Linked DNA regions of Homo sapiens. The protein of the gene in region 1 purifies or fractionates together with the protein of each later gene. This does not show direct contact. Each region holds a gene or a part of one and is shown on either strand. Other genes may lie near its edges.

The links.
Region 2: the proteins of GRPEL2 (region 1) and MMUT purify together in Homo sapiens (affinity purification with mass spectrometry; 2 studies listed by BioGRID and IntAct, with this or other methods). This does not show direct contact.
Region 3: the proteins of GRPEL2 (region 1) and FMC1 purify together in Homo sapiens (affinity purification with mass spectrometry, with the first as the bait; 3 studies listed by BioGRID). This does not show direct contact.

The regions. Positions count from the first base shown.
Region 1 is NC_000005.10:149,341,536-149,348,745, forward strand, and holds the start of GRPEL2 (grpE protein homolog 2, mitochondrial precursor), read left to right. Parts: upstream 1-3,963; 5' UTR 3,964-4,004; coding exon 4,005-4,081; intron 4,082-6,580; exon of another isoform or gene 6,581-6,736; coding exon 6,737-6,890; intron 6,891-7,210. UniProt on the Homo sapiens protein: Essential component of the PAM complex, a complex required for the translocation of transit peptide-containing proteins from the inner membrane into the mitochondrial matrix in an ATP-dependent manner.
Region 2 is NC_000006.12:49,439,021-49,446,342, forward strand, and holds part of MMUT (methylmalonyl-CoA mutase, mitochondrial precursor), read right to left. Parts: intron 5,735-7,322; coding exon 5,619-5,734; intron 2,952-5,618; coding exon 2,820-2,951; intron 1,334-2,819; coding exon 1,186-1,333; intron 1-1,185. UniProt on the Homo sapiens protein: Catalyzes the reversible isomerization of methylmalonyl-CoA (MMCoA) (generated from branched-chain amino acid metabolism and degradation of dietary odd chain fatty acids and cholesterol) to succinyl-CoA (3-carboxypropionyl-CoA), a key intermediate of the tricarboxylic acid cycle.
Region 3 is NC_000007.14:139,337,052-139,344,569, reverse strand, and holds the start of FMC1 (protein FMC1 homolog), read right to left. Parts: upstream 3,234-7,518; 5' UTR 3,186-3,233; coding exon 3,048-3,185; intron 1-3,047. Other genes in the region: FMC1-LUC7L2 readthrough protein, read right to left, coding at 3,048-3,185. UniProt on the Homo sapiens protein: Plays a role in the assembly/stability of the mitochondrial membrane ATP synthase (F(1)F(0) ATP synthase or Complex V).

The sequences.
Region 1 (7,210 bases):
TAAGATAATATATAGTAGGCATCTTGCATAGTGTCTGAGAAATAAGAAATGCTCAGTCAATAGTGGCTCTCATTAGCCAGGCATGGTGGTACTCGCCTGTAGTCCCAGCTACTCAGGAGGCTGAGGCAGGAGGACCGCTTGAGCCCAGGAGTTTGAGACTGTAGTGCACTATGATCACGCCTGTGAATTGCCACTGCACTCCAGCCTAAGCAAATAGCAAGACCCCATCTATTAAAAAAAAAAAGTGGCTATTATTAGCTATATCAGAAATGTCTGACTCACAAGCCTGTGTTCTTTCCACTGAAGAGGAAATTACTTTTCAGTGTTCTTTTTTAAAACGTGGATCCTGAAATGTCACCTAACTCTCCAACTATGTCTTCAGTGTCTGTCATACTCTTTCTTATGCAGTTATTTTGGGGTTAAGTGTCTTTTCTCACCAACAGATGAACTCTCAGAGGAGTGGCTGGGGGTAATTAATAATTAACATTTATCAAGCACTCACCATATGTCAGGCACTGTGTCAGCCATGGCCAGCTTCACAGGCATGCAACCTGTGCAGTCACACAGGGCCCCATGCTTAGAAGGGCCCTGTTCTTGGTTTAATGCTCTACTATTGCCTTCTTAATCATATTTGAACAAGGAGTTCTGCTTTTCCTTTTGCCCTTTAAATTAGATAGCCAGTCCTGGTGCTAACTAACCACTTTTCTAGGTATTATCCCTTTAGTTTTCACTGAAACCCTGAGATAAGTTATATTGCCCTAGTTTTCACAGTTCAGGAAATGGAAGCTCACAGAGGTCAGGTAACTTGTCCAAGCTCCCATAGTTCTTATATTTACATGCTGGTGGAGCCAGCATGTGAATATAAGAAGTCTGACCCTAGAGCCTTATTCTTAATTTTAAAGCTCTATGTCATCCATATATCTCCCTCCCCTTGTACTGCAACATTCAGAAGCACACTAGCACTTAATAAATAGACGAATGAATGCATGGATGCAAGCAGCAACCTGGTGAACGTTAGGCAGCTAGGAGAAATGTAAGCAAAATGGCTAAGGCACAGATGCCACTTGTTCTTGGTTGTTAAAATGCCTTGTTTAGGCCAGGTATGGTGGCTCATGCCTGTAATCCCAGCACTTTGGGAGGCCGAAGCGGGTGGATCACTTGAGGTCAGGAGTTCAAGACCAGCCTGGCCAACATGGCAAAACCCCATCTCTATCAAAAATACAAAAGTTAGCTGGGCACGGTGGCACATGCCGGTAGTCCCAGCTACTTGGGAGGCTGAGGGAGGAGAATCACTTGAACCCGGGAGGTGGAGGTTGCAGTGAGCCGAGATCGCACCACTGCACTCCAGCCTGGGCAATAGCAAGACTCCATCTCAAAAAAAAAAAAATGCCTTATTTGGTTGTGTTTTTTCAAAGTGTAAGCCACAGGTCTAAGCCCAACACTGCCAAGTGTTCAGTCTGTCAGAATTCTACTGTCACTGTTTCCTTATTGCGGGATCTTGCATAGGTTTACCAACCTTTCTGAGCCTCAATTTTCTCATATGTAAAAGAGAATCATAATACCTCCCTAAACCATATCACCCTTTTCATAAGGCCAAAAAGAAAATATAAGTTATTGGTCATGACACATTTGAGTTGGACCTCGGATTAGATAAAAAGATGAAAATACTCCAGCTCTGTCCTCATGGAACTCAGAGACAAGCAGGAAAGAAAATGTGACCCAAATAACTACAGTACAAATAACCCATGTTATGACAAGATTCAGAGTGCTCAAGGAACACTTCCCATTCCCTTAAAAAAAAAAATTAAGGGACTATCCAGTAACTAAGCTGGCAACTCCAAGTGCCCTGGACCCCAGTCACCAATCCATCCTCTCAGTCTGTCAGCTTTCCATCCTAAATCTCTAAAATTCATCCATATCTTCCTATCTTCACTGACACTATCCAACTTAATTAAGTCATTCAACAAATACTTGAGTACCTACTATACTAGATGTCAGAAATCAGTGGTGAACAAGACAGACACCTCATGAAGCTCACATTCTAGTTGGAGGAAAAAACCTTAACAAGGAAGCAAAAGAAATAAAATACTAAGAAACTAAAAGGGTGCTGGACACAGTTACTTTACAGTGGTTAGGAAGGTCTCTCTCTGTTCTTCCAGGACAGAATATAGCCCCATCTTGCCTGGGCTACTGCAACATATTGCCTTCCCTACCTCTTTTCTTACACCTTGCAATCTGCTTCACACAGCAGTCAAAGTGACTCTTTAAACATGAAAGCCTTTGTCACATGTTCCCTGTCAATCTAAAATAATTTAAAAGGTCAGAATCTAGTTTAAAGAGAGTTTATTCAAGCACAAAGGTTGAGGATGGCCTGCCCAGGAAGCACAGAATGGAAAAATATGTCTGTCTTAAAAAAGATGGAAGTCAGTGTTCCAAAGTGTGAAAGGTTGGGTTCAGTGAGGTTTAACAGAATTTCAACATCTTTCTATGCAAGGCTTAATGCACAGTTACAATGATCTGAGTAGTTAAGGTGGTCTTTTTCCTTCAAGAAAGGTACATTTAACATCACATCCTGCAGATGTAACTGTCATGGGGTCAGTTCAGTTCAGGGCACCATCTAGTCTGAGTTAGGTGCAGGACAATAAAGGAGGCTGTCTATTACAAACATCAGTAATTGAGAGGGAAGAAATCTGGTCTCTGCTCTTTCCTAGTCATTACAGAACAAGAACAATGAGGAAGAGAATTAAGCTATAATTCTAAGAAGCAGAACTACAAAACATGCTACATGGACTCAGACCACAGCCACATCTCTCTCAAAGCTTCAAGTATTTGGGAGGTTCCAACAGCTTTTAGGTTTTATTTATTTTCACATTCCATTGCAATCAGAATCAGACTAAATTGCATTCAGCAAAAAAGTTTTTTGAAGCCGGGGGCGGTGGCTCATGCCTGTAATCCCAGCACTTTGGAAGGCTGAGGAAGGCAGATCACCTGAGGTCAGGAGTTCAAGCCCAGCCTAACCAACATGGTGAAACCCTGTCTCTACTAAAAATACAAAAATTAGCCGGGTGTAGTGGGCGCCTGTAATCCCAGCTACTGAGGAGGCTGAGGCAGGAGAATCACTTGAACCTGGGAGGCAGAGGTTGCAGTGAGCCGAGATCGTGCCACTGCACTCCAGCCTGGGTGACAGAGTGAGACTCCATCTCAAAAAAAATAATTTTGAACACCTACATTAGGGCACTGCTCAATGGGAATGAATAGACAATATCTCTGCCTTAAAAGAGCTTATATTTTAGTGAGAGGAAATGAGAAAATACACACTATTTAAAAAAACAATTCAGTCGATAAGAAGGGCATTAGAGAAAAAGACTGGGAGGAGTGATGGGCAATGGTTCAGGCTGCGATGTTTTAAACCGCTCACGTGATCTAGCCCTTCCTAACCACCAGTCCTGTTGCCCTCCCGCCTCAGTATATTTCAGTCCCTTACATGCAATACTCTTCTCTCTTTATTAGGCTTCTGCAGATGTTTCCCTCTGCCTGAACCCTTTCTTCAGCTCAGCTCAAATACCCCCTTCCTCTGGGAAAACTTTCCACAAGGCTAGATTTCTATTCTAGGCTTCCGCGACACCTGCCCCTCACCTTCAAACACCGCTCATATTCTGACTTTACATCCCGCTTGTATCTGTTTATCGCTCATAATATCAAGTAAGCTCCATGCGGGCACAGCTATGATCTGCTTTCTTTGCTGCCGACCCTGCGCCCAGCACGGAGACTGTAGTTACTACTAGGACCTCGCCTACCCGCGGAACACACTGAGAGCCGGAAGTGTTGCCTTAGCTCCGGACGACCGGATGGGGAACGGCGCGGCCCATCGGGCAACCGGAAGCATAGCGTTCCTGTCCGGAAGTCCTGAGAGGGAAACGCCCGCAAAGGCTGGTTTTTAAGCGGGAGCATCTCTTCACTCGCAGCAAGTGCGCGTGCGCTGCCTCTCAGCCCAAATTGGAAACATGGCCGTACGGTCGCTGTGGGCGGGCCGGCTGCGGGTGCAGCGCCTACTGGCCTGGAGTGCCGCGTGGGAGAGCAAGTAAGCATTGCAGGCGGGGAGTCGGGAGCGTGAGGACTCTGAGGGGCTAGCGAGCCAGCCGGGGTGGTTGTGGGCTGGAAGGCGAGAGCTATCTGAGCGTAGGCCAGGGGACCAAGCTTCTCGGCCTCTACGACCGTGCACTCACGGCCCCATTTTACAGACGGGGAAACTGAGGCCATCAGCCGTGCCTCTTTCTTAGGCCGAGGAAGGTAAGGAGATCCGAGGTCATGCATGGCCTGGAAGGTGAGAAGTCTCTTAAGCCCCCAAGGGAGGGATGTACCACTCTCCCGGCCTCTTCTCCCAGCCTGTGGTACCTGTGGGTAAATTTGGGTTCTCTCCCCTCACTCCGTGTGACCTAAGGCCAGTCCTTTCTCCGTTATCCGGGCACTGTTGTACCTGTCAGTAAAAGGAGGCCGCTGAACTTGTTTCTCCAAACGGCCATTGCATCAGCCTTCGGAAGACAAGTTCCATCGGCAGCTTTTATTGGTCGCTTACGAGGCCGACTGCAGAATTATGGGTGGTTCTTTTTATTATTACCCATTTAGTAGTTAAGGAAAGTGAGGTTTAGAAAAGTTGAGTAACTTCCAAACTTAAATATTTGGGAAGTGGTGGAACCCGGGCTGGAAACCAGTCAGGGCGTTGGAATCGGCGCTCTTATTTAATGAGCGATGTTAATTAATTTTCTCAGAGACTGTTGCCCCTACACTGTTTCTTCCTGGGATAGAGAATAAAAATAGTTGAGTACGAGGTAGGGTTGGACCTCTGAATAGTAAAGTAAGCTACGGGAGAATCTGGTAAATGTGCTTAACTACATATGTCACCCTTTTTACCTTAACACACCTGACCCAACATCCTACCCTAGCACCTAAGTGAGAGGTTGCATTCAGGGTTTCGGGACTTGGTTTTGCTTACCGTTCTCAAGTCTTTTTGGCAGCTTGTTGGTGATGTAAGGAAATGACCAGAAGAAAAATGGTTCCTTCTGGTAAGCTGTCTCCCTACTCCAGTTCTGAAGCAGTAGGAATTGAGATTGGCCACAACTCCCCAACCCTATTTCTTGGTCTAAGCTTTGGCCATTTTCCCTTTGAACTGGCCCTGAGAATTTTTTTTTTTTTTTTTTTTTTTTTTTTTTTTTTTTTTTTGAGACGGAGTCTCACTCTGTCGCCCAGGCTGGAGTGCAGTGGCACAATCTCGGCTCACTGCAAGCTCCGCCTCCCGGGTTCACGCCATTCTCCTGCCTCAGCCTCCCGAGTAGCTGGGACTACAGGCGCCCGCCACTACGCCCAGCTAATTTTTTGTATTTTTAGTAGAGACGGGGTTTCACCGTGGTCTCGATCTCCTGACCTCGTGATCCGCACGCCTCGGCCTCCCAAAGTGCTGGGATTACAGGCGTGAGCCACCGCGCCCGGCCCCTGAGAATATTTTGACCTGCTTTTTCAAGTGGATAAATGTGGTTTTTTTAGGGAGAAGATGTTTCACCGTGTGTAATTAGCCCCAGATCTACGGTGACCATATTTTCTGACCCCAAAATGTGGAACTGTCTATAAAATCACACACCGGATTATAATAATTGAATTTAAGATCAGCTTGGAAAGTAGGAGAGATAAAAGTCCTCTTGCTTACACCTTTAAACTAGCTATTTGCTCTGCCCAGGATGCTCTTCCCTTTTCTAAAGCTGACTCCTTTACCCTCTTTAAGCCTTTGCTCAGCTGTCTCCGTGAGGACCACTCTACAGTATATGCCAGTCCATAAAAATTGTTTTAAAGAACTCATGTACTCACAGATTGATTTTCAAGATAATTTTACTTACAGTCAAATTACGAAGATCCAGGAGTTGCAGTGGAAACTTCCTTGAACTGGGCCAGGTCAGGACTGCCACAGCCCAAGATTTGCTGTAAACTAGCCCCTAGTCTAAATTTATTTCTGTGTAAACTGAACTAAATGTCAAAACAGTTTAGCTGTACAAAATTCTAGATTACATAACTAGTTGAATGCAAAGATCTATTTTCACCTGTGTCTATTCACCGGCAGTAACATATAGTATTGTATAAGTATTTCATTGACTTGATCTTATTTATAGGTGGGAATTTCTTTCTCAGCACAGGTCTCCTAAAAGCCTTACAGGTTGTGGTGAGGAAGGCTTAGAATTCTAAGCCTTAAGGTCCCTTTACTGGACTTAATTTCCCTCATCTGTAAGTTAGAAGGTTGAACCAGAACTATATGACTTTTTGAATGCCCACTTCTGACAATGCTCCTCTGGTTCTGGGTACTAGCATTTGGTTTCCTTATGCTGACTTTTGTATACCCAGTTCTGGCTATTTCTGCTGCCTGGTTCTTAGTGTCCTGACCCAGCGGAATACCAACTATGTGATCTTGAGCAGGCCATTATGCCTTAAGCCTCTCAGCATCAGTTTTCTCATCTGTAAAATAGGGATAATGATAGGACTTATCTCACATATTGTTGTGAGAGGAAAAGATGACTCAAGTAAAACAGTGTCTGGTACATGGTAAGGACTTCGTAAGTGTTCATTTGTTACTATAACTGAAAACACTTTCTCCAGAGATTCCATCTGGGAAGATCTCTGGTCTCTAAACTTGGTTGTAATTTTGGCTTATGATGGCATTTCTTCATTATGTGCCACCTCCTTCCTGTTTTAGGGGATGGCCGCTTCCATTCAGCACTGCCACCCAGAGAACTGCTGGTGAGGACTGCCGTTCTGAGGACCCTCCTGATGAGCTTGGGCCCCCTCTTGCTGAACGAGCCTTAAGGGTAAAAGCTGTTAAACTGGAGAAAGAAGTCCAAGATTTAACAGTGAGTCAATTTTATATTTCTTCTTCATATCCTCTCTCTAGTTTAAATATCCACATAAAGTTTTTTATGTCAATTTTCAAAATGAAGTTTTCTTTAATTGGCTCTTTATCTGCTACCCCTCATCCCTCCTCCACTCCTTGCTAGGTATACTGGGCAGAAAAAAACTGTAGTAGTTGAAAAACACCACTGGCTAAAGATAGTCATCTCTTTTCGGTTTCCTGTTATGTCACAGCACTTAGATATCTGATGTTTCAGCAGATTAAAGGAGGTGTACAGTGCCTGGAATATAGTAGACAATAAATATTTGTTGAATGAGTGAG
Region 2 (7,322 bases), on another chromosome or scaffold:
AGGCTGAGGGAGAGAAGGCAGGGTGGCAGGAGTGGAGACCATGGGCATTTGAGCTACTTTCTCATGTAACTTACTTGTGCCTTCAGGACCTGCTCAAGCTGGACCACATATATACCACTTCCATTTGATGATGGAATGCTGCTGTGCAAGACCCACTTTATAGTTAGATGGGTCAGAAAGCACCCAGTTCATGATAGGCAGTTCTGGTCGCATGGTGACTTGATGACCCATAGTCAAACATTCAGTTTCCACCAAAGTCCAGTAACAGGCCAAGAGCTGTCTCTCAAAAGGAGAGTAGTTATCTGCAGAAGATGGCAGGCCCTTCCTCCAAAATCTTAGAGGCCTCTGCTGTGACTCACCTATGGGGGCCTGCCAAAGGCTCCAAACATCATTGCTATCTGCCACTGACACCTCAAGCACCATTGGATCTGCTGGGTCATATGGCCCAAGTGGCAGAGTAGCTTGCACAGCAGCCTGGACCTGTTGCAGAGCCTTCTCCTATTCTGGACCCCACTCAAAACTGGCAGTCTTTTGGGTCACTCGATAAATAGGCCAGAGTAACACAGAGTAACACATTCCAAATGAGGAATGTGTTGCTTCCAAAAATCCAAATAGGCCCACTAGGCATTGTTCCTCTTTCTTGGTTTTAGTAGGAGACAAATTCATTAATTTATCCTTCTAAGATTATCCTTAGAAGGAATATCTCAACAGGTCCCACACCACTGGACCCCTTACTGAGGGAGAAGGTCCCTGAATTTTAGTCAGATTTATTTCCCATCCTCTGGCATGCAACTGTCTCACCAATAAGTCCAGTATGTTTGCTACTTCTTGCTCACTGGATTTAATCAGTATAATGTCATCAATTAATGGACCAGTGTGATATCTTGCAGAAGTGAAAAGTGATCAAGGTCTCTCCGAATAAGATTATGACAAAGCCAGAGAGTTAATAAACCCCTGCAGTAGGACAGTAAAGGTATATTGCTGGCCTTGCCAGCTGAAGGCAAATTGCTTCTGGTGGGCCTTATGGGCAGGAATGGAGAGAAAGGCATTTGCCAAGTCAGTGGCTACATACCAGTTACCAGGAGATGTATTAATTTGCTCAATGTCTGTCATCATTTTACTACATTTTCTAAATGTAAGTGACTAGTAAATACTTTTGAAATTCCCCCCAACAGTTTTTAGTACCTGGAAAAGAGGGCCTATGTCCACATCAAAACCAAGATCAGCAAATCCTGTAGCAATAACTTTTGCTCCTCTGTCATGGCCATCTTGTCCCATTTTTGCTACAAGAAGACGAGGTCTGCGACCTTCACGTTCCATGAATTTATGAACCCTGAAAAACATTTAAAAATATATCAGTAGTTAGATACTAATTTTCCAAAGGGAAGATATAAAAACTAATTTATTCACAGCAAATCTTTCAAGTTTATTTAAAAGCACCTAATTTGTTTACTTGTATTTTGGGTTGTTTTTTTTTTCCAATTTTTATTTTACATTCAGGGGTTAATGTGCAGGCTTGTTACATAGTTAAACACGTGCCATGGTAAACAGCTGCATAGATCACCCCATCACCTAGGTATTAAGCCCAGCATCCATTAGCTATTCTTTGTGATGATCTCCCTACTCTCGTCCATATTTTGTTAATGCATCTATTTTACATTGAGAGCTCCATTAAAGCCATTTCCCCCTTAGAGGAAAGTCTGAAAGATGGCACAGACTGTAAGCACATAACACTGAGAACATCACGGTGAACTAAGACAAAAAATGACAACCTCCCACCTTCGTGAGCCAGGGTACAGAGTACAACATGCAGAAAGATTGAAATATAAACTAAAAAGTGACTTCATGGTCATTTATACATATATGTGATAGACTGGCTGCTTTGAATTGTCCATATCTCATCTACCCTTCATAAGTGTGAACTCTCCCAAGGTAACAGCAATATGGTTTCTTATCATGCTATATAAATCAAAATGCTTGCTTGCTCCACTGACAAATTTACTTCCAACACAAAAAAGCACTTATCTTTGTTAAAAGAAAAAAGTTCCATTTTGATGACTTTCACCTTGGCTGTTTTGATATTTATCTAGTGTACAAGTATGGAAATTCAGTTTTTAATTGGAAGCTTGTTACAGAGGTTGGAAAGACCAATCATCAAAAAGCTAGTTCTTACACTTGAGAAATATGATCACATTAATATATATTTCCAAGTCATGCTGTGGAAATAAATGTAAGTTATTATCAGTTCAATAAATACTGATTGTAATGTATGCATAGATGCCAACTAAATGTTTACTTTCAATTATGAAAATTAAGATTTTATAATTATTCAAGCAATGAAAAATGTAAACAACTTCAAAAAATATGAAACTCTACCATAGTAAGCAGATTGAAATATAAATACCTGGAGGATATGAAGCAATATCATTGTTAGTTAAACATCTGTTTGACATGAGAAACTCCTGAAGGGGACTATGGTGAAAGTTCAAAATAGTATTAATTATATGAAAACTAATATTAGTTTCAATATTTGATATTTATTATTAAATATTATCATGTACCTATTAAAATGATAGTATAGATATATAATATGTATCATGTATGATATATTTCTAATTATATATTATATGTAATGAATAAATTATATACTCTATTATATGTTATATAGTCTATATAATTAATATTTAATTTACTATTTATTATTATAAAATTCAAAAATTTTCTCAGTTGTATGTAAGGAAATTAAGCTCCCAGTAGATTCAAGGGGATTGTGCTAACAGAAAAGATGAAATTCTGGCCTAAGAAACCTTACATATTACCTCTTGATAGCAGATGTTATCTCTTTACTTTCTCCAAATTCCTGGCGATATGCTCCACTCACCATTCGATCATTCGCTTTATGTTCACCAAATACCTTTTTCAGGGCATCTGTGATTTCTCCCACTGTACATCTGAAACATGAAATGGTGGTTCCATTAACTTCATTATTTTGTGATAAAGATATCTGTTTACCATAATATTCAATATAATTAAACATTTTATTACATAAGTAAATGACTGTAAAAATGTAAAATAAGAATTTTTTAATGCATTATGAAAGCATCTCTTCTGAAATTACTTAAGAAAAATTTATTCTGGATGCCTTTATGCATCCAATTCTCTTTTCAACATTTGTCAACCAAGAAATGACTGAATGACCTAATAATTATATATATAGACAAGTACCTGAAGGTTGCTGAATAATTCACCACTTAACACAAATGGATAAACAGCAACACTCCCATAAATATTTTTTGATAAGAAGTAAATCTTTTAGCATATTCCATCCATTTGTTCACTAACTCATCCAACATTAGCTGTGTGCCTAATATGTGCCAGATATTACTATATCTCTATATCTACTATAGCGATACAGTAATAAATGAGACCAAAGAAAAAGTACTTGTTCTTATAGACATTAACATCTGTAACATCTAGTCAGAGGATGCAGATGATAAATAACTAAATAAATAAACTAGTAAGACAATTTCATAAGGTAATAAGTACTACAAAGACACTAAACCACGCAAAGATGGAATGGGCTGTCTGGAAGAACCATTTTAAAGTTATTGAAGATGTGAAGATATGACTTTTGAACTAAGATATAAATTATAAAAAGGGGGATCCCAAGGGAACATAAAACAGTAAGAGTGTTTGAAAAAGGAAGCACTAAAAGCAAAGGCTCTGAGATGTAGGAAAATATGTTTTATGTTCTAAAAATAGAAAGAAGGGCATTAGGAACACGGCATAGTGAGGAAAGTGGTATAAGATGAGGTCAGAGAGATGGGCAAGAGTCACATCTAGCACATCTTGCAGACTATCGGAAGATTAGGTTTGAATATAAAAGGAATGGGCAACCATCAAAGGACTTTAATAAAAGTCATCTAATTTTTTTAATGAAATTAGTAGTAGAAAAAAACAGTACATACAAGTTATACTATACCTTAACCAGTTAAAGCAACATATTTTTTTAAAACTTCATTATATTAAGAAATAAACACTTAAAAGCAAAAGTAATCATTTAATGATACTGCCATATATTGGGAGAAAATTTTCCATGGGTCACTTGCTTTTCTGCACATCCTGTGGAGCAAAGCACTGACACCTCTTTATTCTGGACTATCTTTTCAAAGATGTCTGTATAGTGAATCGCCTTAGAAGACAGAAATATTGGCTACCTCCAGAGCAAAGAGTAGGTTTGCTTTCTGTCCAATATAATAATGTCTTCCTCTAGAAAAATGGAGGACATGCTTATTACCCATTACAAAAGATTCCGAATCCCTAAGCTCAGGCTTCCTCTCCTTGAATGTAACCCAATGCACTGTACATGAGGTATCATCTAGCAGTCCTTTTCACATCACTCACATCAATTGGGCATCAAAGGAACTAGCCCAAAACCTGCTGATGTTATGGCTATTAATATTGTAGTAACAAACTGTCATTAGGTTCTGATCCAGGGATCTCATATCATCAACCAACACCCCACTATACAGGATAACTTGTTAGCTTGCAAGAAGGGTAATATTTCAGACTCCTTCTGGTTCTTAATATAATAAATTTATTTATATATGATACATATAATGAGATAATTTTTAAATAACAACAAATAGAAAAATAATAAAAATTAACACATTAAGTGCCATATTCTGTTCCAGGAACTATTTTTAATGATTTAATGTCTTCTCACAAAAATCCTATTAGGTAGTAAGTACAAAAAACTTTACCTTGCCAAATATCGTGTCTATGGGAACACTGAAGCAGATATAACATGAGATTAGATTCTGTTTTTCACTCAGCCTTTTTTAAATGCAGGATGACAAAAGTTAGGAGACAAAGGAGCATGTTAAGGGTTACAAAGGCAAAACGTCTCAAGAAGGAAGAGGTGGTCAATAATGTTAAATACTGTAGAGAATTCAAGATAAGGACTAAAAATTATTCACAATATCAGACAAAGAGGAGGTCTCTAGTGAACTTAGTAAGAGCAATTATATTACAGTAGAAAATCAAATGCAGTAGACCAAAATGTCAAAAGGAGATAAAAGACTAGTAACAATTAATAAGTATTCTACTCCTAAAGGAACACATGGCTCCAATAACAAGGGAAGGACTGGGAGGGGGGTGTGGGGAAGTTGGTTGCTCTTCCGGTTGCTTCATGGTTAAAACTAATTCAAAAGCAATGGGATGACAAGTTTTTCCTATAAATTCTCAGATTAATGTTCCCCTCCCCACCCCACAGCCATTTTAACTGGTAAAATACCAAGGTAATAGGCATAAACCTGGTGATATACTTGAGAGTCCAACACATTTCAACCTGCGAATCAGTGAAATGGATTCATTTCAATAGTTTCAAAATTCCTCAGCCACAGTAAAATACACAATTATTAATACAGTTCACTCAAAACATGAATGTTTTAAATACAGAAATTTTAAAATGATAAGAATTAAATTTACGATGGATGCCATTATTTTCTTTTGGGCTCACATGGTTTACAGGATCAACCTTTTATTTAAGTATACTCTGAAAAGCTAAACTGGTCAACTTTTAGTCTTTGGAAACCTCCAAACTTATATATCTTCACCTTGCCCGAGATGCATCCACTGCAAGAGCCAGGATATTTCCATCTCCGCTAGCAGCACATTCGGTTAGTGCAGCAAGACAACGTTCAGCCAAAGCTTGATCCCTGCTGGATTTGATCTATGGAAAAAGTCAAGGAAAGGGACAATTTACATGAAGAGAGAATAAAACAGAGATCAAGAGATTAGACCCTGATGCATAGCATATGGCATTTTTTTCCATAATCCTAACTCCAAATTTAAGAGGAAAAAATTGAAAAGAATAATATATAACCTAGGAATTTTATTCATTCAATTCATTCATTCACTCAGGATTTCCTAAAATAATATTACATTTGGTATAATCCTAACAAATCAGAAACATGAAGGGCAATAATAGTGCTGACCTTCCCAAGTAGCACATGTTACTTAGGCTTTTCTAAAGTACCAAGACATTGTAAACAAGTGGGTCTTTCATATGAAGTATTTTGAAGGAACACTAAAGATTAATAGTGACAAGAAAAAAAATCAAAACTTAGAGAATATTTTAGTTATATTTTAAGTTTCCTTTAGATAAATAACAATGTATTGATAATAATATGCATATTGCTATACTTTTATTTAAAAATAATCTCGAGAGCGAAAGAGGGACTAAGAAAAAGATATACAATGAAAAGCACAGTAAAAAAGTTTTCCCTGGGTCCTAACTCTGCTCTGCCAATAATTTGTCAAAATAAAGTTGCATAAATCCATTTTTTTACAAATTGTACCACCTGTAAAAGAGTCTAAAATATACTGCTCAAGATGCCACTAGTATTATATAGCATATATAAGCAGAGGTACAGAAAATTTATAGTCATCCCTCAGTATCTGTGAGTGATTGGTTTCATGACCCACTGCCCACCCTATCCACAGATAGCAAAATTCAGGGATGTTCAAGGCCCTTATATAAAATGATGTAGTGTTTGCATATAACCTATGTACATTTTCTTGTATACTTTAAATCATCTCTAGATTACTTATAATTCCTAATACAATGTAAATACTATATAAATAGTTGTTATAGTGTATGGTTTAGGAAATAACAAGAAAAAAGTCTGTACATATTCAGTACAGACATATCCATTCTTTTTTTCTCAAATATCTTCAATTCATTATTGGTTAAATCTATAGATGTGGAACCCACAGATATGGAGGTCCAACTATATTTAGAGCAAGAAAAAACTCAACTCCAAATTCTCCATAAAAATGCCCATTTTTCTTTATCTTTTATTGGAGAAAGAAACAATAAACACATACAATTTAAGAGAAAAATAAAGTAAATCGAGTAAATAACGAAGTGATTTGGCACAAGGTAGTAGGGTGCTATTGTAGATATTGGATCACTGTAAGCTTCTTAGATAAGGTGACATTTGAGCAAAGACCTAAGAAGTACACCTTTTCTGGTTTACTAGAAAATTAGTCATCCTTAGATTAGGTAGTTTGCTATAATTATCTCAACAACAGATTACTAAAATTCAGGGAGTGAAAACAGATGCTAAAATTAATTAGGGCTGACGGTTACAGAAAAATAATTTAATATAAAATTACTGTTGAGATAGTTCACATTTTTAAAAAAATTACCACCACAGGTAAAATATTGTTAAAACCATAGGTAAAAGGAAAGCGTAAGAAAATATAAACTTGAGTTCATTACTAAAGAGAGCTCAGAGTATTGCAGCAGAAATATA
Region 3 (7,518 bases), on another chromosome or scaffold:
CCATGGGTTCTGCATCTTTGGATTCAATCAACTTGTGATAAAAAATACTCAGAAAAAAATAAAAGGATTATCATGTCTTACCAAACATATGTTTTGTCATTATTCCCTAAACAATGTAGTATAACAACGATTTACATAGCATTTACACCGCATAAGGTATTATAATCTAGAGATGACAAAGTATACAGGAGGATGTGCATAGGTTATATTGCAAATACTACAGCATTTTATGTCAGGGACTTGAGCATCCATGGATTTTGGTATTCCTGAGTGGGGGTGGGGGGTGTCCTGGAACCAGTCCCCACAGTTACTGAGGAATGGCTATTCTCGCTCTTACAATTTGCTTATCCATCTTGAAAACTCTGGACTCATGACTTTAAGAAGCTAGAAATTCCATATCCATTCCAAAGTCCCCAAATGATTCCAAACCTTTTTTCTTCATCATACTTAACTTTTGAGATTCACTGCACCCTCTTTAACTAGTTCTGTATTCAAGGCTGTGAGAAAGGGGCAGGAAAGGTGAGATGGGGATGTGTGCATAGCTCTGAGGGACTAAAGGAGCCATGTCCAAATGTGGATAAATCTGGGCACCACTGCCTACATAATACGCCCCCCACCAACTCTTTTTTTTTTTTTTTTTTTTGGGGACAGGGTCTCACTTTGTTGCCCAGGCTGGAGTGCAATAGCGTGAACATGGCTGCTGATCTCCCCAGCTCAAGTGATCCTCCTGCCTCAGCCCCGCAAGTAGCTGGGACTACAGACGCACACCACCATATCCGGCTAATTTTTGTATTTTTTATACAAACAGGGTTTCACCATGTTGCCCAGGCTGGTCGTGAACTCCTGGGCACAAGCGATCCACCTGCCGCCTCCTCCCAGAGTGCTGGGATTACAGGTGTGAGCCACCGCTCCTGGCCTAATCCCCTTTCTCTATTTGAATATCTAGTGTTAGAATCTGAAAACTAGAATGTGTGTGGCTTCTTGGTTTTTGAGACAGGGTCTCGCTCCGTGGCCTATGCTGGAGAGCAGTGGTATGAACATGGCTCACTGCAGCCTTGATCGACTTCTTGGGCTCAAGTGATCCTCTCACCTCAGCTTCCCAATTAGCTGGAACTAGAGGATGGGCCATCACGCCTGGATAATTTTCAAATTTTTTGGAGAGGAAGTCTCACTACACTATGTTGCCCATGCTGTTAGAATGTGGGTTTTAGGATCTGCAGATCATGTTGAAAGCAACATTCATTAGCTGCTTAAAAACAGAATTAATCTGCTTTAATACAAATTTAACTTTTTAGTAATTTAAATTTTATGAGAAATCAACACCAATGTCAAGCATTAACAAATCATAGCATCCACTTCTATTAATATATAAGCCCAAATTTGTGGAATTTGACATGGGAATTCTAGGTTAATGTAGGATAGAATACTGCTCTTGATTCGGTTGAGCCTGAATCATGAGGACAAAAGGGTCAGCAATAGACAGGAAACAGTAAATAGATCACAAGAACCCAAAAGAGATCAAATGAAATAGAACACTGTATTTTCCCTGTGGAGAAAGGGTAGGTTTCTCCCTAATAGAATCCCTTCTCCGGAGGGAAAGGATAGAGAAAATGGGATGGTTATTCAGTTAGCTGTGAGCCTGAAGGAAACAGAAACCATTTCCCCTATGCTCAAGTGCATTCCAGAGTGGTATTTCCAGAATGTACCATGAATTTCAGAACCATTACCAAGTCTCTCTCAAGGGTAATAATGTTATCCCCATAAGGTACAACTATAATCATGTCACCTCCTTAAAAATCTTAGAATGGGGCCAGGTTTGATAGTTCACGCCTGTAATTACAACACTTTGGGAGGCCGAGGCAGGCGGATCACCTGAGGTCAGGAGTTCAAGACCAGCCTGACCAACATGGAGAAACCCCGTCTCCACTAAAAATACAAAATTAGCCGGGCGTGGTGTCGCATGTCGCCTGCCTGTACTACTCGGGAGGCTGAGGCAGGAGAATCGCTTGAACCTGGGAGGTGATCACAATCTTAGAATGGCTTCCCATTACACTTACAATAAAGTTTAAGTTCCTGTTCGGCCTACCACTTCATCTACCTCCACTTCACCCACCACACCTTAGGGCTAAACCACTCTCAACTGGCAATTTTTCTCCCCTTGGGCTTTCAATTGTGTAGCTTTTAAACCTGGACCCTAACCCCAATTTACTTGCTAACTCCAAATTAGCCTTCAGGTCCCTGATTAATTTCCTCCGGAAAACCTTCCCTAACTACCCCTTCTTTATACCCCAGCCCCTGTTGTCTACACCTTGAGCACTTATTTATCCTCAGTACTTTACTGTATGGCTCCTTAGGTGGGCAGCAAGTGTCTTAAGGACAGGACACATGTGCATCTGATTCTTCCTGTTTAGACCAGGTTCCTAGCACAGACCCTAACGTTGCCACCTTTTAAAAACTAGGTGAATTTGAGTTCTAAGATTTTACATTCTGACGTCCGTGGCTCAGAAATTCGACAGTTGATCGTTCTCCCTTTCCCCACATTGCTCAAGGGCAGCAAGTTTCCTTCCCTAAAGCCCAGTTGTTCTTTTCCGCCTCAAAAAGAAATGCTTCTTAGAATAACTTTTCTAGGGGACGGGTGAGGAAATTGTTGGCCAGATGCTGTGGCTTTAAGTCTAGCAACAGTACACCCTTCAACTCCATCTTCATTGTTTTATCCCCAGCATTGAATCCTCCATTCCACTTTCCTGACTGCCCTCCGCAGAGGCAACAGACCAGCCAATGAAATCCTTCGGGACGGGTCCGCCCCTCTGCAGGACAGGCTGACGTCCCCAGAGCGACTCTGCGCCCCCCCCCGCTGGTCCTTTGGTCCCCGAGTTTATGCCAGAGCATGGAGCCTAGGGCCTGGGTTGGTTTGGTCAGAACCAGGGCTCCGTGGGAGGGTTGGCCTCAGAAATGCAGGAATTAAACACCGTGCTCCCCACCCTAGCCCAGACCCGGCTCTTCCTCCCTCCCCAGCACGTAGAGCACCCGGGACATGGCTCCCGTACCCGATGTGCACGGAAAGCCTTCACAAGGTACCGATAGGCCGCGGTGTCGCGATAGGGTCGGCCGGTGGCCGCGCTCAGGTAGCGCAACTCCCGCAGAAGTCCTCGAAAAGTGTGCGACGGGGACCCTAAGGCCGCCATTGTCCTGTCCTTCTCCGAGCGTGGTGCCCAACGGCGTCCTACGACCCTGAAAACCCCTCCTCCGGCCCAGGCGCCTAATGGTACGGTCGGACAGACTACCGACTCCCCCTATCGACTGACGAGCAGTGGAACCGCTCACTTGTCCGTTGACCGAACCTTATTAATCGAAGGCCCAGGGGCGCCGTAACAAAATCAAACGAAACCCGACTGTTAACTGAAGGTACCAGGACCTCTAACCCAGAACAAGGGTTTGGGGAAACAGGGGCTTTTCTTCACTGCGTCATTGAAGATGCCCGTTAGCCGACCAACCGCTGAGTCTCAGGAGAAGCGGGCCCGGCGGGGGGTGTGGGTGTGGATTTGATATGGAACACGCTGAGAAGACATTTTTAAATGATTTATAAAAGGGATATCAAAATTCAACGTATTGACGTCTCCCCAAATCCCAGGGGACCTGCGGCTCAGACAAAGGACATGGGTGTGTGCAGATTCTCGAAAATTGCAGCCCACCAGCTAGTAAAAACACACACACACTTCCCATTTAAAAAAAAAAAAAGTAAAGTTGGCATATTTCGCTTTGTTTAGAAAGGGGAAAAAAGGACAAAAGTCACAGGCCACCCCAGATGGGACTCGAACCCACAATCCCTGGCTTAGGAGGCCAATGCCTTATCCATTAGGCCACTGGGGCTTCTGCAAACGACGCGCTCACACAACATATTCAACTATTTTCCTCTTTGGTACGTCATCGTCACTTCATTTTCGCCTTACCCTATCCCACGAAACCACACCTAGCGCCCACGTGAGGGGTGACGTATGCTGGGAGTTGTAGTTAGAGAACAAAAGTCCACATCACCGCGCCAAAGGCTTTACCCTCGAAACTGCACCGATGCTCCGGACGTTGAACGGGCGCGCGCACGCTTCTGCGTACGCGCTTGCCTGCGCAATAGTCTCCGCGCCTGCGCCGTAGTCCCCGCGCCTGCGCAAAAGCGGGCATGCGCCGTCGCGGAGCACAGCGCGCTGGGCAAATTGGCCGGATCTTCGAGACTCGCCCTCTGAACGTCAGCTCTGGTGGGTTTTTACCGGAAGCAGCCGGACCTTTTCCGGTGTTGCGAATTTCCAGGAGGAGCTTTGCTCCAGCGGCCGTTAGATGGCGCCTGCCGCGGTCAATTTCTGCTTCCGGTTGAAGCGTTGAGGCCATTTCCGCAGGCCGGGCGTGGTGGCGCACGCCTGTAATACCAGTACTTTGGGAGGCCGAGGCGGGCGGATCATCTTAGGTCGGGGGTTTGAAACCAGCCTGACCAACACAGAGAAACCCTGTCTCTACTAAAAATACAGAATTAGCCGGGCGTGGTGGCGCATGCCTGTAATCCCAGCTACTCCGGAGGCTGAGGCAGGAGAATTGCTTGAACCCTGGAGTCGGAGGTTGTAGTGAGCCGAGATCGCGCCATTGCTCTCTAGCCTGGGCAACAGGAGCGAAACTCCATCTCAAAAAAAAAAAGAAACATGTGCCGTGTCCTTTGAATTGGTGCGTCAGCGATAAACATGGGACAGCGGGGAAGTAATAGTACATTGATTAGGAATTAATTTTAAAAATTAGCAGTTCATTTTTTGGTTCTGTTCCTAATTGTATAACGAACAAATCACTTCGGAGTCCCAGTAAACTTACCCTTATAGTATCACAGGGGCTTCCCATTGTCCCTAAGATAAAGCTCAGACGACATAAATTGATCCTCGCTTGTACCTTAATCTTCATCTCTCACTTTTCGCTTATCACCCTCTGCTCCAGGTATCTCCACTTTCATTGTCTCTTCCCCACCACACACCTTACCTGATATTCCCTCTGCCTGAAACTTAACCATTTGTATTAATATGCCTCTTTACCCTTTGGGCTTCAGCTTACTCCAGAAGTCTAGGTTAGACGCTTCTCCAGGCCCTTGAAGTCAATACGGCAAGGTGAAAATTATTCATTTCACCTCCTCTGGTCCCCTGTTGCTCCCTTTATTTACTCATCGTAAATAACTCTTAATGTAGGTACATGGCCACTACTCCATACTGTAGTTGTCAGTCTCTTCCATCAGACTGGGAAATTGTTCAGCTCCGAAAGCCCTGTGCCTAACAGAAAAGCCTGTTTCTTCACCAGGCTTATTCCTTGGTAGCATAGTCATAACAGCTTAGTCTGAAGCTCCTAAAGGGATTGGCACTGTCTGGCCCCAGTGGCTAGGAGACATAAGCTACTGAGCAGGAATGACAAACAAATGGAACATCAATTGTTCATTAATGAGTAAAGCTGGCTTGGTTGGAAACCTGGTGAACTGGACAGCAACTAGCCCACCTGTCCAGGGGGCAGCCATTACTCACCTCCACTGATTGTTGCCATTTTAGGAAAGCAAATCCTTTAAAAACCTTTTTTTTTTTCAGGAAACTCTGGAAATCTGTTTTAATGCTATAGATTTCCTTCTAAATATTGGCCACTAATGAATACTTTAAAAGTACTGCATGCCAAACAGCCCACAGACTTCTAGTCTGTAAAGAAAGAAGAAAAAAAGGGCGATAGGATTTGAAGTTAAGAAAAGGTAAAAAACATGTGGCGTGCCTAGTTCGTGGGAAAAAAAGCTGGTTTGATGATCCTGCCTTTTTATTTTTTCTTTTTAGAAAAATTTTTACAACTATATTGTCTTTTTAAGTTTTTAAATGATTTTTTTCTTTCCTATCATCTCCTTAGCCTGATACCCTGCCTTATCTTTAGGAAAAAAATGCTCCTGATAATAAATACAAAATATAATAAACTCATTTGTATTAACATGTGAGATTCTGTTCAAAACCCAGCCTCATTATAGGTCACTCTTCAGCACCCTCAGCTGATTACCACACTGGCTAAATTAAGGAACTTACACATCTTAAACAGCCTTCTCAAGATTACCATTTTAAATGTTCCCCACTCTTGGCCGGGTGCTGTGGCTCACGCCTGTAATCCCAGCACTTTGGGAGGCTCAAGGGGGGGCGGATCACTTGAGGCCAGGAGTTCAAGACCAGCCTGGCCAACGTGGCAAAAACACATTCTCCACTAAAAATACAAAAATTAGCTGGGTGTGGCGGTGCGTGCTTGTAGTCCCAGCTACTCTGGAAGCTGAGGCAGGAGAATTGCTTGAACCCAGGAGGCAGAGGTTGCACTCCAGCCTAGGTGACACAGCGAGTGCGAGCCTGTCTAAAAAAAAAAGTTCCCCACTCGTACGTATTTCCAGATACTGAGGGTTTTCGGATACTACTTTTTGGCTAGACACACCAACTAATTATTTAACCGAGTGTACAGTGATAGAATTAAATCTCCCAGGAGCCTGGCAACAAAGCAAGACTCTGTCTCTATAAAAAAAATCGATGTATATATGGTGGTGCGTGACCGTAGTTCTAGCTATGCAGTAGTTTGAGGATCACTTAGCCCAGAAGTTCAAGGCTGCATTGAGCTATTATCTCTCCACTGCATGGCACCCTAGGTGACACCAAGACACTGTCTCTAAAATAATAATAATTGTTGGGAGCAGTGGCCCACGCCTGTAATCCCAGCACTTTGAGAGGCTGAGGCAGATGGATTGCTTGAGCTCAGAAGTTTGAGACCAGCCTGGGCAACAGCGAAAACCCACTTCTACAAAAAAAATTTTAAACTTAGCTAGGTATGGTGGTGTGTGCCTGTATTCCCAGCTACTTGGGAGGCTGAGGTGGGAGGATCGCTTGAGCCTGTGGTGAGCCTTGATCACGCTACTACACTCCAGCGTGGGTATCAGAGTGAGACCCTGTCTCAAAAAAAATTTTTTTTCTTTTTGTGAAGGTGTTTCTGTTTTGTTTTGTTTTGTTTTTGAGATGGAGTCTCACTCTGTTGCTCAGGCTGGAGTGCAGTGGCAAGATCTCAGCTCACTGCAACCTCTGCCTCCCGGGTTCAAGTGATTCTCCTGCCTTAGCCTCCCGAGTAGCTGGGACTATAGGCGCATGCCATCATGCCCAGCTAATTTTGTTTGTTTGTTTTGAGACGGAGTCTTGCTCTGTCACCCAGGCTGGAGTGCAGTGGCGCAATGTTGGCTCACTGCAAGCTCCGCCTCCCGGGTTCACGTCATTCTCCTGCCTCAGCCTCCTGAGTAGCTGGGACTATAGGCACCCGCCACTAAGCCCAGCTAATTTTTTGTATTTTTAGTAGAGACGGGGTTTCACCATGTTAGCCAGGATGGTAATTTTGTATTTTTAATAGAGATGGGGTTTCACTATGTTGGCCACGCTGGTCTCGAACTCCTGACCTCAAGTGATACACCCGCCTTGGCCTCCCAAAGTGCTAGGATTACAGGCGTGA